Linked DNA regions of Homo sapiens: region 2 is linked to region 1. A link means that fine-mapping ties the variant in region 1 to the expression of a gene that starts in the linked region. Tissue or cell type: whole blood. Region 1 holds a variant in brackets; the other region holds the start of a gene. All regions are shown on one strand. Distances are between the middles of the regions. Region 1 holds the start of MAP6-AS1 (MAP6 antisense RNA 1). Region 2 holds the start of SERPINH1 (serpin family H member 1).

What was found.
Region 2: it holds the start of SERPINH1, and the variant in region 1 is fine-mapped to the expression of SERPINH1 in whole blood (TOPMed, PIP above 0.99). The same link has a PIP of 0.9 or more in blood mononuclear cells and monocytes.

The regions. Positions count from the first base shown.
Region 1 is chr11:75,580,205-75,588,657 of GRCh38, reverse strand. It overlaps MAP6 (microtubule associated protein 6), which reads left to right. Exons shown (of 4, transcript NM_033063.2): 4 at 474-1,740. The coding sequence ends at 1,599. It overlaps MAP6-AS1 (MAP6 antisense RNA 1), which reads right to left and starts at 5,462. Exons shown (of 2, transcript NR_145823.1): 1 at 5,377-5,462. RefSeq lists an enhancer at 3,849-4,428 and silencers at 5,175-5,324, 5,335-5,444. The variant G/T (reference allele first, on the strand shown) is at 5,265.
Region 2 is chr11:75,557,360-75,565,812 of GRCh38, reverse strand. SERPINH1 (serpin family H member 1) reads right to left here and starts at 3,560. Exons shown (of 5, transcript NM_001235.5): 1 at 3,494-3,560. RefSeq lists enhancers at 2,261-2,799, 2,800-3,340, 3,341-3,880, 6,462-7,003, silencers at 3,505-3,554, 3,565-3,824 and cis regulatory regions at 6,016-6,866, 7,339-7,569.

The DNA.
Region 1 (8,453 bases):
AGGCAAAAGAACTTTGAAGGCCCTGAGAACAAGAAAAGAGCACCCTGGCCTGTGGGGGCATCTGGTGGGCAGCTGAGATGGGGCTCCCAGGATGGGCCCAACGATCCTAGAAGAAAAAGTAGGGACCTGGATGGAATGTGGGGTGGACGGGCTGCTGGGATGCCTACTGGATGACTCCGAGTCCAGCTACAGTACTGCCATTGTCACCAGCGTGCCACCCCCTGTGCCACGTGCAGGTTATAATCAATTGGCAAGCACATTGAATGACTGATTCCTGAGCCTTCACCTCACCCCCCTCCCTCACCCCCGCCCACATTCTGTACTAAGAACACAGAAATCATATTCTCCTGGCTCTCCAGCAAGAGCTGCCCGGCCCAGGCTCCACTAGGCCAAGACTTATTAGGCAATCTGTACTCTGCCCTGTCCCTGCCTGAGCTCTACTCTCACAGTGATCACCTCTCTCTCCTTTGCAGGAGCCTGGCTCAACCCGTCAGTGATTCAAGTAAGACTCAAGGTCCTGTAGCCACAGAGCCAGACAAGGATCAAGGTTCTGTGGTCCCAGGCCTTCTGAAAGGTCAAGGTCCTATGGTGCAAGAGCCTCTGAAGAAGCAAGGTTCTGTGGTCCCAGGGCCTCCAAAGGATCTAGGTCCCATGATCCCATTACCAGTCAAGGATCAAGATCACACGGTCCCTGAGCCTTTAAAGAATGAAAGCCCTGTTATCTCAGCACCAGTCAAGGACCAAGGTCCCTCGGTCCCAGTTCCTCCAAAGAATCAAAGTCCTATGGTTCCAGCAAAAGTTAAGGATCAAGGCTCTGTGGTACCAGAGTCTCTAAAGGATCAAGGTCCTAGGATTCCTGAGCCTGTGAAGAATCAAGCTCCTATGGTCCCAGCACCTGTCAAGGATGAAGGTCCCATGGTCTCAGCATCTGTCAAGGATCAAGGTCCCATGGTCTCAGCACCTGTCAAGGATCAAGGTCCCATAGTCCCAGCACCTGTCAAGGGTGAAGGTCCCATAGTCCCAGCACCTGTCAAGGATGAAGGTCCCATGGTCTCAGCACCTATCAAGGATCAAGATCCCATGGTCCCAGAGCATCCGAAGGATGAAAGTGCCATGGCCACAGCACCCATAAAGAATCAAGGTTCCATGGTCTCTGAGCCTGTAAAGAATCAAGGTTTAGTGGTCTCAGGGCCAGTCAAGGATCAAGATGTTGTAGTCCCAGAGCATGCAAAGGTTCACGATTCTGCAGTTGTGGCACCTGTAAAGAATCAAGGTCCTGTGGTCCCCGAGTCCGTGAAGAATCAAGACCCCATTCTCCCAGTACTAGTTAAGGATCAAGGCCCCACAGTCCTACAGCCTCCAAAGAATCAAGGTCGTATAGTCCCTGAACCTCTGAAGAATCAAGTTCCTATAGTCCCAGTGCCTCTGAAGGATCAAGATCCTCTGGTGCCAGTACCAGCAAAGGACCAAGGTCCTGCAGTCCCTGAACCTCTGAAGACTCAAGGTCCCAGGGACCCTCAGCTACCTACTGTCTCACCTCTACCCCGAGTCATGATCCCAACTGCCCCCCATACGGAATACATTGAGAGCTCCCCTTGACACTCACCCCTTGACACACCAATGAAGGAGCTGACAGTGAGAGTGCTCCCCTCCCAGGGGCAGTGAAGACACATATTTAATCTGCATGAAACATGTACAGTAGTCTTGCTGGAATCTAATAAAAATGGTCCCTCTGGCTCAGCAATGTTTCTCTCTGTCTCTGTTGGGCAGGGGTGCATACATGTGTATAGGTGGGCCTGTCAGGCTCTGCATTCACCCGTCTGGACCAGAGGGGTCTGAGAAGCACCAGTTCCTGTGAGTTGTCAGCATGAGATGGGAGTGGGTAGGCGATGCTAGATGGAAACAGGACCCCATCACGGAGGTGGGCAGGATAAGGCAAGGGTCAGATACCATGACAGCCTCACAAGAGGTGCCAAATCCCAGCAGGCTGAGCCCTGGGTAGCTGAGTTGAAGCCTGCAGATGAAACAGGAGCAGGGACCCACCTGGCACAGGGGAATTCTGGATGACAGTTGTTTGCCAAGAGCTCAGCCTTAAAGCTCATCCAGGGGTCAAACTTCTTGAGGAAACCAGGCTCTGATCATAAGTCTCAGGACACTGTATAACCTAACACCTGCTAATCCTCATTCAATATCCATGACAGCTCAACTGAGAGCTTCTAAAGAATATACCTAGAGCCAGGCACAGTGGCTCACGCCTGTAATCCCAGCACTTCGGGAGGCTTAGGTGGGTGGATCACCTGAGGTCAGGAGTTCGAGACCAGCCTGGCCAACATGGTAAAAACCCTGTCTCTACTAAAAATAAAAAAATTAGCTGGGTGCGGTGGCAGGCACCTGTAAACCCAGCTACTCAGGAGGCTGAGGCAGGAGAATCACTTGAACCTGGGAGGCAGAGGTTGCAATGAGCCGAGATTGTGCCACTGCACTCTAGCCTGGCTCCAGCCTGGGCGACAGAGCGAGACTCGGTCTCAAAAAAAAAAAGCGTGTGTATGTGTATGTATGTATGTGTGTGTGTATATATATATATACACGTATATATATATATACACGTATATATATATATATATATATATATACGTGTATATATATATGTGTGTGTGTGTGTATGTATATCTGAAGTCCCCATTCATTTCTCCGTGCAGCAAGCTTGTCCTTAGCATGCACTTTGTGCCAGGCTCAGTGCTGAGCACTGGGGTCACTATGGGAAAGAATATTATGACAATAAAACATGGTATGGGATGAGGCCCTAGGACAAGTCAAGACCTGGCTTTGAGAGGCCAGTGAAGAGAGAACACCTGGCAAGAGCAGCCAGGAAGGCTTTCCAGAGAAAGTGGCTGTGGAGTTCTGATGGAGTCTAGGCAGTCCAGACAGGGCAGACAGGGCGGCATGGGTGTGGCTGAGGACCGGGTAACGCTCCCTCTGAAAGTCCTTGAATGAAAGGAATCTGGTTTGCATGAGGACTTGACCAAGGGTATGGCAGGTCTCTGGGGTGGAAAACTAGGACGAGGCAGGGGTGATCCATTTTCTGAATTCCAGGAAATCAGGGAGGGAGTGGGGGTGCGTCCTGTGGGCTGTGATTGTGGGGCTGGCAGGCCGAGGAACAGCCACAGCCAGGCTGTGGGGAGGACGGCTGGGAGCTGCCAGCGGGCCTGGGGCTCAGCCTCAGTCAAAGATGGGTCCGGCCGGGATGCCACTGGCAGGGGCCGCAAGGCCATATTACAGCCTCCCTTTCAAAGCCCAGAGCCCCCAAGAAGCTAGGGTGGAGGCTCCACCAGTTGCCCCCACCAAAGCTGGCTCCCAAGGAATACTGCTATCCCTTTCAAAGGAGCTCAGCTCAGTTCTTACAGGAAAATCATCAGAGGAAATACAGTATGGAGGACACCCAAATAGTCTAGTTTTCTAAGCAAGCCTTCCCCATCCAACTGGCCCCAAGCCTGCCTCCTCACCCCGTTCCCAACAGCACTAGGGTTTTGTCTATACACACACAAACACACACACACACACACACAGAGAAAGAGAGAGAGAGACGTTTCTTCACAGTGAGGTTGGCTTTTTTTGGCCCAACACAAAAGTAGCCCTCAGAGCTTGCTGCCATATGAGCTCCAATAGTCAGAAACCTGAAGATAAGACAAGGCCACATTGAGGCTAAAGAATTGCGTGTGAAGGTCGGGCTCGATGGCTCACGGCTGTAATCCCAGGACTTTGGGAGGCCGAGGTGGGTGGATTATTTGAGGTCAGGAGTTCAAGAGCAGCCTGACCAACATGGTGAAACCCTGTCTCTACTAAATATACCAAAATTAGCTGGGTGTAGTGGCAGGCACCTGTAATCCCAGCTACTTGGGAGGCTAAGGCACGAGAATCGCTTGAACCTGGGAGGCAGAGATTGCAGTGAGCTGAGATCTAGCCACTGCACTCCAGCCCGGGCGATAGAGCGAGACTCTGTCTCAAAAAAAAAAATCGCATGTGGACACCTTCCTCCTCCTCCCAGTCCTTCCTCTGACCCACACACCAGGTCCCATGACACACACGTTTCCACAGGCCAAGCGAACCGTGGCGCCATCTCTGAGAAGCAGAACAAGGTTTCCCTGAGGGCCTCCGAGACACCCGGGGGCAGATGTCCAGGCCACTGGCTACCAAGGCTTGACCTCTGAAGAGACGTCTGGAAACAGGGCCTGGTAGTCAGCTGCCCTGGGGCTGGGGGGAGGATGGTCACAAGCCCCACATGAAGGACGCTGCGCTCCCTCAGAGAGTGTCAGAATGGAAAGAGATGTGGGTCCTGTTCCAAGCGTTGCGGACTTAAGAGGTCAGAGAGAATCGCCCAGAAAAAGTTCAGAGGGGCTGGCCCGGAGCTGTAAGGAGGAACCAGGGAACTGTGGTGCCCGGAGTGATTCAATCAGGAGACAGTGAGGCCGGGTCGAAAGCTGGGAGGGCCGGCGCAGATGAGGACTGAGGGGTGGCCGCTAGATCTGGCAGTTTCTGCTATGAGCCCAGAGCCAGCCCCTCAACATCTTCATTTGCAAGCCGGTCCTGACGCACAGAGCAGCGCCTCTGAGCTGCAGGCCTTCCCAGCTCAGTCCAGTCCAGCCCTCCACTACCCAGAAAGAAGGCCCAGTGCGGGAGGAGGGGCTCTGGGTCCCCATCTTGGGGTGGGGCAGGGAGGGCGGGGGCGCACCCGACTCTCCTGGCCCTTCTTACAAGCAGGCTTCACTCGAGGCCTAGCTCCTCCCTGCGGCAGCCACTTCCCAGTCTCCCGCGGCGTCCCCTTCCCCACCTCTCCCTCCTCCCTCCTCTCCTTCTTCCTCCCAGCTGCGGGAACTCACAAAGCAGGGGCGACCGCAACCCCGCAGTCCGCGGGCTCCCGCGCCCCTGCTGCAGCCGCCCGGGGAGGGGAGAGGACGGCCCCGCGGCGCCGCAGAAAGGGCGCCCCTACGCCGCGAGGGGCAGGGAGTCGGGGGGTCTCTGGAATGGGAGGCTCCCCACCCGGCCCAGAGGCAAAGGCGACCCGCTGAAACTGGATGGGCCGGCGGCGGAACTCCGACCCGAGAGTCCCACTCCGAAGATGCCCAGGCTCGGGAGGGCGTCTCCGCCCACAGAGCCCCGCTACCAGGGCTCTCGGCTCGGAAACAGCAGCCCCCGTCCCCGCGCACTCGCACAGCCCCCCGCCTGCAGGCTCATCTCCGGCCCCGCCCCGGGCTCCGGGCTCCGCC[G/T]CCCGTGCAGCCTGGCCCCGCGAGACCTCGGGACGCGGGATCGGGCCGGTGGGAAGGATAGTGCCCTGGCGAGGGTGGGCGAAAGAGGCCCCGGTATCTGCGCTCTGCCTACCCGCTTTGGGCCGCTAGAAGGCCTGGCTGGGAGACCCTTTCCGGGAGCTGGGCCGAGGCCTCTCTGGAGTCCCCGGTGGCTGGTCTGGGGAAAGGCCGCGATGTTAGTCCTCACACAATGGACCCCACCCGTGATACCTGCCGACGCCCCACACGGCCTAGGCACCTTGTGCCATATTGGGGGAGCGGGGAGACGGTCTATGTGGACAAGGGACAGGAGCCAACTCGGACTGGAGCGACACTTTCGGGAGTCTGTGCCGCTGAGTGGATGGATGGTCTAGAGGAAGTGGGTGGGAATGCACTCGGGTTGACCCAGTTCTCAGCCAGAAACCGGGAAATCCTTTTCAGTACCAGTCTCCGACCCTCAGCTTCCAAACTATCAGTAAGACCTGCCTGGCCTTCCTGCTAAATAGCAAATTTGCCCACTTTTCACTATCTCTATGGCCACCCCCTCTTACCTCACCCATCTCACAATTTGTAATTCAGTCTATGCATCACAGCATGGCACTCAGGTGTAAGAAATGCCACGTCTTTATTTTGGTAAATCTAATTAAATAGACTGGGAGCCCCCTTCTCTCGTTGCCACGGTTGACAGGAAATCTGATATTAGTCATTTTCCTGGAGCCTCATCCTGTCTTTGGGGCTTATCACAATTCCAGGAGGTTCAGGCCATCCTGAGAAGAATCACTATGGCTTCCCTGAGCCCAAGCCGGGGGGCTGGCAGCCCCTCTCCCTCTCCCTAGGGCTTGGCTGGGGACCTCCCAAAGCCTGCCCAGGTTGTGGTATTTCTGCCCAGTTTGCCCAGGCATTCCTATAGCTTCCACATCTGAGCCCATCCCTCAGAGGCCCTGCAACCCAGCCCGCAGGCGCGTGGCCCTTTCTGCACACCTTCATTCCCGGAGGGAAGCCACTCCATCCCTCATCCATCAAAGCACCTGCACTTTCACTCCCTCTCCACCTTGGGCCATCAGTTCAACATCCTCTGCTGGGTGTGGTGGTGCATGCCTGTAGTTCCAGCTATTTCGGAGGCTGAGGCTTGAACCCAGGAGCTCAAGGCTGCAGTGAGCTCTGATCATTCTACTGTGCTCAAGAGCCCATCTCTTGAAGTGGGGGGAAAAGGGGAAAAATCCTCTACGGCGTTTATTCTGGTTCTGGGTGGGCCAGGGCTTCACTGTTTTACATTCCCACCCACAGTGTAGGAGGGTTCCAGTTTCTCCACATCCTTACCAACACTTGTTATTGTCCATCTTTTTCATGTAGCAGTAATTTCTTTGGCTTGTTCCAGAATCTTACATTTTTTTCTTACATAAAAATTGGTATCTAATAAATATGAGTAGATCTCTATTGTTGTGTGGATTAATGGGAATCCAGGAAACAGCTTGTTTTGGCAGGAGGATGGACTCAATTTGGTGTCCAGACTTCTGGACATGGTGGTCTGAGACTGGGAAAAGGGTCTGAGCTGAAGGCGGAGATGCAGACCTCATTGAAATGTGAGCCTCGCCAACCCACAGAAGGTAAAAAGGCTATGAGAGAGGGTGAGTTTACCCAGCAGGAGTGTGGAAAGCGAGAGACGGATGGGGTCAGGTCAGAGCGCTGGGAAACACCCACATTCAGGGGACAGGCAAAAGAAGGAGCCCCCAAGTGGAGGCTGCCCTAAAGCAGCAGAGGAGTCAGAAGAAAACTAGAAAGGAATGTCACCTTGGGGAAGACATCAAGGATGAAGAGTTAACAGGGTTAGAGACCATAACGGCTTCCCTGCAATATGGATTTAGAATCTGTTGAACAAAATGGGCAAAATGTCGTTACATATTGAAGTTTTGTGATGGGTACTATTATTTATTTATTTTGAGATGGAGTCTCACTCTGTCGGCCAGGCTGGAGTGTGGTAGTGAAATCTCCGCTCACTGCAACCTCCGCTTCCCAGGTTCAAGTGATTCTCCTGTCTCAGCCTCCCGAGTAGCTGGGACTACAGGCGCACACCACCACGCCTAGCTAATTTTTGTATTTTTAGCAGAAACAGGATTTCACCATGTTGGTCAGGCTGGTCTTGAACTCCTGACCTCAGGATCTGCCCGCCTCAGCCTCCCAAAGTGCTGGGATTACAGGCGTGAGCCACCGTGCCCAGCTATGTGTACTATTATTTAATTGTCATGTATGTTGGAATTTTTTTCATAGGCGCGAAATTAGTTTTTTTTGTTGTTGTTGTTGTTTTGAGATGGAGTCTCACTCTGTTGCCAGGCTGGAGTGCAGTGGTGTGATCTCGGCTCACTGCAACCTCCGCCCCCCAGGTTCAAGTGATTTTCCTGCCTCAGCCTCCCGAGTAGCTGGGACTACAGGCGCATGCCACCATGCCCAGCTAATTTTTTGTATTTTTAGTAGAGATGGGGTTTCACCATGTTGGCCAGGATGGTCTCGATCTCTTGACCTCGCGATCTGCCCGCCTCGGCTTCCCAAAGTGCTGGGATTACAGGCATGAGCCACTGCATCCGGCTGAAATTAGTTTTTTTTAAAGTAGCAATAAAGAGATCACTGACTTTGGCAATTGTAGACTCTCTAGAGTAGAAGAAACAGAAGCCCGATTTCGGATAAGGGGGATAAGAAAGGAGAGAAGTCAAGTGTGTTTTCATACCTGATGCATAATTTACTGACATCTCATTTAGCAACCACTGAGCACATATAACCCAAGTATCCCTGAGAAAAGAACACACTGTGTGTTACAGTCATTAATTACTTTCACAATCCCTTGGTGCCTCCCACACTGAGACCACTGTCAGCTAAGCCCAGCCAGCAGTGAGCCAAGAGTCCTTCCCCAAAAGGAGGAAAACTGCTTGCTAAGGAGCACCAGGCTTCACTCCTAAATTGTAGATACTCCATTTTGATTCTTCTATCAGAGTTTGCCATGGGTTCAAATACCATCCCATCTGCCGCAGACACTTGAGCCATCTTGGGATCGGCTGGGCTATCAGGGCCATGTGGCAGAGCTGCTTGCCTTTCATTCTGGACCACCTGGAAACTTTCCTTTTCTCTGGACCCCACTCCAACCCTGCAGCCTTATAGGTTACTCAATAACCTTATAAG
Region 2 (8,453 bases), 23 kb after region 1:
TGAGCTGAGAATCTGCAGGAAACCCAGATGCCTGGGCAAGGGATGAGGGACAGAGCCGGAGGGCTGCCCCGCCCCCATGCCTTTCATTCTGCTCTGGGATGTTAATGAGTCACCAGTTGGGTCACTCATTAAATGGGGAGCCAAGATGCTCCACTTTGCTGCCCCAAGGGTGACCCTGAGAGTGTGTGTGTGTGTGTCCTGTGTCCACTCAGCCTCAGTCTCCCTTTTCCAAGCTGAAAGGTCCAGGTCTCCATGCCCATGGCTTCTGTCTGGGCAGGAACTTGGAATGCCCATCTACCCACAGTGCTCCCAGTGCGGATGGGAAATCCCCAGGACAAAAGCTCCTGGGGGACCAACTCCTTTGAAGACTCGGTGGGGCTGGGGAGGAGGCTTCCTGACATAGCACAAGGACAGGATACTAGGGAAAAGGGTGAGTCACACATAGCTCAATAGAGCAGTGACCCCCTTCCCCATCACCAGCAGCTGGCCAGATGTGCACTCAGCCTTCAAAGAAGCTGGAGCCACATCAGATTCCATTCTGCCCTCCAATCTGACAGCCACTGCCACACAGGCCATCTGCTCCACGGCTTCAGGGTTGCCCTCAGGCCTCCTCCCCAAGCCCCAGCAGTAGCAGTGGCCCCAAGGACAAGCCCCAGTTCCCTCTCTGGGGCCTCCAATTTGGACAGTCTCTGTTCCTGGGATACTTCCACACTCCCTCTCTCCCTTCGGGCCATTATCCTCCTCTACATCATGCAACAGCACAGGAGAGATGACAGGGCAAAGGGAAGGATAGAAGGAATCCTGGTGGAGGCTGCGATCCCACTGCTCTGGTAGATCCCAACTTGTAGTCATCCTTGAAGAAGACCGAACATTTGAAATCCTGGTGGAAGACCCTCAGGACTCTGGCTGCCTGGGGACCACTGTATTTCTGGGAAGATTCTACTGCTGCCATCCCAAAAACCTGGACAGGCTCCCCATCTCCCGGGACTGCCTCCCTCCTCGGAGCCTTGAAGGTGCAGTATAAGATAAGCAAAGGGTCCAAGGGGAGGGAGGTGGGGAGAGGAGGGAAGGCCCAGAGATCTAAAAATGTCTGGAAGGAGCGGGGAGATCTGAGTCTCACCCTAAAATGAAGGGGATATCTTGGGGCCTAGAATAAACCCCAAGACACCTCCCTCCCAGCTCTGGCTCCTTCCCTGCCAGAACTGGAGCCTCAAAGGCAGAGCAACCATATAATTTATTGCACAAACAAGGACACTTATAAGAGTAAAATGGGCACTACTAATTATTATGCCAGGACAATAGGCATATGGCCACCCTACTCAAAAGCCACCTCTGATCCAGACCAGTGATGCTGGAGCTCAGACCACAGCAGAGGCCAACAGCCTTCCTTCCCTGAGGAGGCAGCTGAAGAGCCCACTCCCAGCCATGCCACGTGGCAGGTACCATCTTGACAGCCCCCACCCCCACCAGCCAGAACCTCAAAGGACTGGGAGGGGCTTCTCAAGCAAGCTCCAAATAACTGGTTTGGGATTCCTCAGGCAGCCCGCTAGGCCCGCAGCAGCTTAGCGCCTGCTCCTGGTGGTGACGTGGCAGGCAGGAGGCTGAACTATCTCCACCGGCCGGCAGAGGGGGGCTTCCAGCCTGGGAAGCAGGCCTGACTCAGGTCCCAGGGGGTGCCACATATTTGCCAGGGGACTCCAGGAGCCTTCTTGGCCTTAGTTCCCTTCCCATCCGCACATGAATCTCTGAAGGGAAATGCGCTACTGGGGAGAAGGGCAGCCCCACTGAACCCAGCAGCAGGAATGGGGGAAGGCAAGTTACTGCAAGCAGGCCAGCCTCCCACAGCCCAGCCCATCTTGCCACAGAGAAATGCCAGCCCTCAGGCCAAGGTTAGCTGAGTTACAGTCCCACAAAGAAAATACAAGATCACCTAGCCAGGGCTGTGCCCACAGCTAGCTGGACTGAGCAGGGTCTGGAAGGGAAGGGGAGGAGATGATGGGACCCCACCAGAGGGTCCCAAACACTTGAGAGGTCTAAAGTACCTGGAAACTGCCTCAGAGGGAGGTCAATGCCTGCCTTTTTCATTCTGAAAGAAAACAGAAGAGTGAAGAGGGCGGGAGCCGGCAAAGGAGAGATGGTGAGGAGGCCCCTGGCGCAGAGGGCACAACCAGTCCCCAATCTACAGGGACCTTGGAGATCGACCACCTCACTGTAAAATGGGAGAAACAAGGCCAGGGCAGGGGGTCACCCCAGGTCCCTCGGGATAAACAGGGGTCTGCCTTCCCAGCACAGGGGTCCTTCCTCACAGAAGCACAGAGCCCCTCCTGAGGGCTGCATGCGGTGTCCTGTTACACAGCCAGTACAAAAAAAAAATCTCTGCTGGGAGTCCCGGTGACAGAGGAGACAAAGGAGAGGACGGGAAGGGGGGATGGGTACATGAACCATCTGAAGACAGGAGGGTGTGGCCCCGGCCGGAATTCCGGAGAACCAAAGCCCCCTCATTTTCCTCAGGCCTCCATCCGGGCCGTACAGCCCAGAGGGACCAGCGGGAAACAAGGAAGAGGAGGGGCTGAGACTCTGGGCCAGTCTGGAAGTGCATTCATTCTCCTTCCTGCTCTTCAGCCACCTCAGGAATGTCTCTAAGCTGGGGGGCAGGGAACCCCAGCCTCTGGAAGTTAGACCCTGCAGTTTAAACCCTGCAGTTACTCCAAGAACCCTGTGGCAGTGGACAGAAGGAAAGACTCAAATCCTTCTAGTCAGCCCCTTAATCCCCAGAGCAGAGCAGACCCTGCTGACCCCCACTCTCTTTTTTCGGAGTGGTAGGGAGCCTCGCTGGCCAAGTCTTTCCTTTGGCTGCCATCATCTAGGCTGCAAGCTGCTGATCAGAAATTGAGCCACTGTCGCCCACTTCTACCAGAGCACACGGACCCCAGGAGTCGAGACGATTTCACCTCCTTTCCCACCACCGGAAGCTCAAATTCCCTCAGCAAGCCTGTGAGGAGGCTGGGCCACCAATCACCGCTGCCCCTGAGCCTCAACCCCAGAACGGAAGTGACCTGGAACTGCGAGGCCGGCCTATCCTCCCTACCCTTGCGGGAAGAGGCACCAGACCCATCTCCTTCCTCCTCTGTTTCTTTCCGCAGAGGCTCTGCTCTCTGCCCCCAGCCCCCTTTACACAGCACCTAGTCTCGTATCTGCCACCACCACCTTTTAGGGGTCCCTGCACTTTTTCCCAGTCCTCCGAGTGCACGGACTCCCAACCCGGCTCCGATCTCCGCCCTAGCCCTCAGCTGGCACCATCACTGGCTAGCCCTGGGCTCTCGATTCCAAACCCTCCAGCGGCCCCCAAAGTGCCGAGGACTCCAATTTGTAGGCTCTGGCTCGGCACCCAACGCTTCGCAGGGTCCCCTCGCCCCTCTTACTCCCTCGCGCACCCCCAGATTGCTCGGCGCTCCCCCGGGCCGCACGCACGCAGGCGTCTCCCGCCCCTCACCTGGGTCGGGCTGGGCTAGCGCCGGGACGTGACTCTCGCTCTCGAGCCGCGACACGATTCTACTCTTAGCCCGCTCCCCTGCTCCCGGGATCTATATATGGCAGTCCCCACCCCCTCCTGCCCGTCCCGAGAAACTTCTGGAAAGTTGGAAACGCTTCCGGAGGGCGCCCCAGCTCCGCCAAAAAAAGCCAAAGACCTCCCTCAAAACCTCCCCGGCCCCCGGCCCCTCCCTCTGCCGGCGCCTCCCGGCCCCTGGGTCCTACTGCCTCCCTCGGCGGCCCGGGCTGCGGGGCGCCGGGAGTCCCCACGGGGATCAGCGTGTCCTTCAGAGTGCGAGCTTCCTCCCACCCCCAGGCTCTCTGCATAAGCTAGCCCACTCCGAATCGCACGTCCTTTCAGGCGCCCCTTTCCCCGCAGGGGCTCTGCCCCAAGCAGAGCCATCTCCCCTTCTCCCCGCTCTCCCCCATTTTCAAGCTGAAACAATTGAGTCCTGTGCACCCCCTCCCTCTCAGGGGAGACGTTCAGGCTTCTGAAGGCAGTGCCCTTCTCCATACTTGTACATTCAAAAAACCTCAACCTCAGCGATGGCCAGAGGGAGAGGGAGCAGACCAGACCCGGTACCTGCCCGGCACCCGGAAAGTTCAAGTCGTGGAGTAATAGAGGCAGAGATGCCTGGGGAACTTCAGGTGGTCTGGCTGGGCTTGGAGGAGTGCACAGGAAGGAAAACCTGGCTCTCCACTGAGCAAGGTGCTGTGTGACCCTAAGCAGGTTACTTTCCCTTTCTGGGCCTCTGTTCCCTTGGCTGTGAAATGTGGTTCTAAGGCATCCCTTGCTTTTTTTCCCCCCTCTCTCCCTTCCTCAATCCTTGTCACCCCTGGCCCCCTCCCTATTGCATCCCCTCCCTCTTTGGGTCCCCTCCCACAGGCCTCAGGTCTCACTGTCAATTCCTACCCCACCCTCGCAAACTGATAGCTCCTTGACCTCCAAGTTAAGCTAGGGTATTCATTACTGTTCTAGGTGCTGAGGACACAGCTGAGAGCTGAACAAAGTCCTTGCCCTGTGCGATGTCCATCTGTGGGGTATGTACCTGTTAGTAGGGAATTCAGTGATTCAGTGAGGCAGATTATTTAGGAAACCCTAAATAATCTGGGCGACAGTGGCTCAATTTCTGATCAGCCGAGGCTCCCTACCCTCCGAAAAGTCCTCTTTAGTAGTTTAATGATAGCTATTGGATGGACGCAGTATGGAGAGGAAGGGACAGGGTAGGGACTCTTCATTCATTCAGTCATGAATGAATGCATTGAGTATCTTCTTTCTTCTAGGTGCTTGCCTGGATCCTGGGGAGCAAAAAAATCCCAGTACCCAGCAAATGAGTCAATCACCTGGGTCCCTGCCCTCTGTTAGTGGTTGTGGGGAAGCCTGGTGGTGGTGACAAACCTCTCTGTCTGGGTAGGCTTCTGCAGCTCAGAGTCTTTTGAGTACAAGGACTGTGGGAAATCTCAGATCCCAAAAGCTTCAGACTCTGTGATTCAGGGTCAAGGAATCAGAGATTACTTCCACTCAAAGCCCCCAAGGAGTCTTTGAATCCAGCTAAGGAATCTTAACATGTTAAAATCTCAGAGTCGAAGGATTCTGGAATAAATGTATTAAAGACTCTGAGCTGCAAGGCATCTCAGAGGTCAGGGGTTCCTGTCTGCAGCCCCAGGCAGAAGCCCTCTTCTCAGTATCCCAAAAAGGCAAGCACCGAGGCACCTCTAAGAAGAGAGAGCTTACCTCCTTCAGAGGCAGCCCCGCATTCTTTTTTAGGACAGGTCTGATTATTAACAAAAGCTTCCAGCCTTGGCATGGTGTCCATCTCTTTGGGGTGGCTGTCGTGGTTCTCATGTGCTTCCTCCTGCCTCAACTGTATATTGCTTTTAAAGATAAATTCTAGGCTGGGCGCGGTGGCTCATGCCTGTAATCCCAGCACTTTGGAAGGCCGAGGTGGGTGGATCACCTGAGGTCAGCAGTTCAAGATCAGCGTGGCCAAAATGGTGAAACCCCATCTCTAATAAAAATATGAAAATTAGCCAGCTGTGGTGTCATGTGCCTGTAATCCCAGCTACTCAGGAGGCTGAGGCGGGAGAATCTCTTGAACCTGGGAGGTGGAGTTTGCAGTGAGCCGAGATCATGCCACTGCACTCCAGCATGGGTGACAGAGCGAGACTCCATCTCAAAAAAAAAAGATAAATTCTTGTTTATCCAAGGAGACCTCCCGGGTCCCAGGCCAGACCCCACTCTCTACTCCCACCCCCACATTGGCCCTCAGGCTTCCTTGTGACTTGGTCAGTGAGCTGAGGGCAGGGCAGAGCAGAAACAAAGAGTGCCCATCAATGCTGGCAAAACAGAGAGGGTCGCCTGGGTTTTCAGCAGGTTCAGATGTCACAATCCCAGTGAGACTCCCTTCCTCTACTCTCTTACATCTCTTAGCTCTTTTAGGCTTCACCAACACCTGAGGGGGAGACTGAGAGTGCTGTGACTGTCCCATTTTGAGGGATAAACCAAAGCTCATGCTGTTAAATAGACCCAGTATCATGAGTGGTCACTGAAGAGAGGACCTGCCCTTACAGACAGCAAAGCTGAGGCCTAAGGAGGGCTGGGTCTGAAGGCCCAACCCCCATCCGACCCCCACTAATCTCACACCGGGTCAGAAGCCTCCTCTGTGACCTATCCCACTGCTGCATTATCTCTGTTATCACCCTGTATTGTCAGTGAACCATCACTGGAGACTTTGGAAGGGCAGGGCCTTTTCCTTGTCACTGTGAGTCCCCAGCTCCAGCAAGGGGACAGTATGGAAGAGGCACTGGGTAAGCATGGCTGGCCAGGGGATGAGAAGTGGCTGCCTGAGGCTGCTGTGCCCCTAGCACAGCCTCCCTGAAGAAGGGAAAGCAACGGCTCCTTTAAATTTCCAAGATCAGCAAAAAAAAAAAAAGTCAAGAGCCTTTGCCACAATATTCTTAGCTCTGAGCCCAGCCCAGACTGACTGTGGCCCTTCCCCCACATTCCAGGCAGAGCTTTCCGGAAAAAGCACTCTTTTAGGGGGTGGGGGAGAAGAGTCTGATAAGCAGAGAAACTCTCAAGCATTTTGTCTCTGGACTCCTCCAGTGCCTCGCTTCACTGAAGGAAGTGGTCCTGGTGCCTGGCACGTGGAGGCTGGCTGGAAATCCTCTAGATCCCTAGGTCCCGAGAGGTGTGGACAGCAGAAAGTAGAAAACCATCAAGTCCAACTGCATCCACACTATACAGAGAGGACAACGGAAGCCCAGAGAGGGCAGGAATTTACCCAAGGTCACACAGCATATCAGAGGTGGGGCTGGGCTGGAGCCTAAGCCCTGGACTCCCAGCCCTCTTTCTCCCACAGTACCCTCTAATGACCCAGGGGGGTATGTAGGCCCAGTTCTGCCAGGTGCTGTGGAAACAGCTTTCTTTGGCCCCAGTGGCTAGATTCACTCAGTCTTCACCCCATAGAATCCTAGGACAAAAACTTGCATGTCATTTAAGTGTGCAACACATTCACATTTATTATCATATTTATTCCTTTCAGGTAAGGAAGAATGTTCCAATTTTCAGCATGAAGAAACTGAGGATCAGGGAGACTAAGCAACAGGGTTAAGGGCACACAACAAGCCAGAGTCAGAGCTGGGTTTTGAATCAGGTCTGTTTATGCCATATCCACGGGAAGGCAGGGAGTGGACGAGAAGGAAGTGACATTTATGGGCCATTTTGCCGCTGCCAGGCCTGTGCTGGGCACCGTCATTAGTGTCTCACTTTTAATTATAGAACGTTAATCGGAAGGAAGTTTAATCCCCTTCTTTTTACATTGGTATAAAATTGGAGCCCAGAAAGCTCCGACAGCCAGTCCAGGGTCGGCCCCCTCCCTCAGGGAGCCAGGGCTGCTATAGGCAGCTCTTCTTTGAGATGCTGTCCAGGAGCCAAGAATGTGCTCTCAGCCCAAGGCATGAGTCAGGAAAACACGATTTCTGTAATCTTGGATTCTCTCTCTTGGAGCGTGGGGCCTTCCATCCAAAAAGGGCTGTCCTGCGTGCTGCCACGTTGGAGGGTGGGCAGCCGGTCCATGTGGGGGTGGGTGGGCACATGATTCCTCCCCTCCTCCTCCCAGAGCAGGCCCGCCCCTACCCGTCTGCAATCCTGGTGCTGAGCGAAGCCACATAGGAACTCCAGCGCCTTCACCCACATGCCTGGCACAATACCCAGGAGACACAAGCCCACTGACTCGCTATATACACAGGCGTATGTGCACCCACATACATGGTGCACACACGGCACTTGAGCAGCCCCTTCACACAATCCATGTACACACATGTCTGTGTAACTCCAGTAACCCAAATGCACCCCACCCCCCTACACAAGTTTTTGTTGGGTATTGACATATACACAGGATCAGGTTCCCCGCCCCCTCTCCCAGCCTCCCTCTCTCAGGCTTCCTCTGGCAACCCATGGAACCAGCTCCAGTGCCTGCAAGACCAGGCCTGAAGGGCTGGTGGGATGGAGGATGTGTGTTAACTACAGCCCTGCCTTTCCCTTCCCGTCTTGTTCTCCTCTCCCTTAGGTGCTGCTGAGCCTGTAATAACAGTGATGCCCAGGTGGGCTACAGGGCTGTCCTCCCTTGTCTTAGCATCCCTGACACTCAGAAAAGGGACTCCTGAGCTCTGACCACCCCCTACACCCTGCCAAACCACCTCTAATCTGCTTCAGCCCAGTTCAGCCCTGCTGTGCTATGGAGTGTGAAATGCCCTCACTTGGGGGTTAGGAGACCTGGGATCCTGCCCCAGGTCTGCCACTTCTTGGCTATGTACCCATGATTTAAATTACCCCTCTGTAAAATAGGACTGATAGTCTGCAGGATGATGAGACACACAGATAAAATAATGAATAGCAGAGGACTTTGTGAACACTAAGT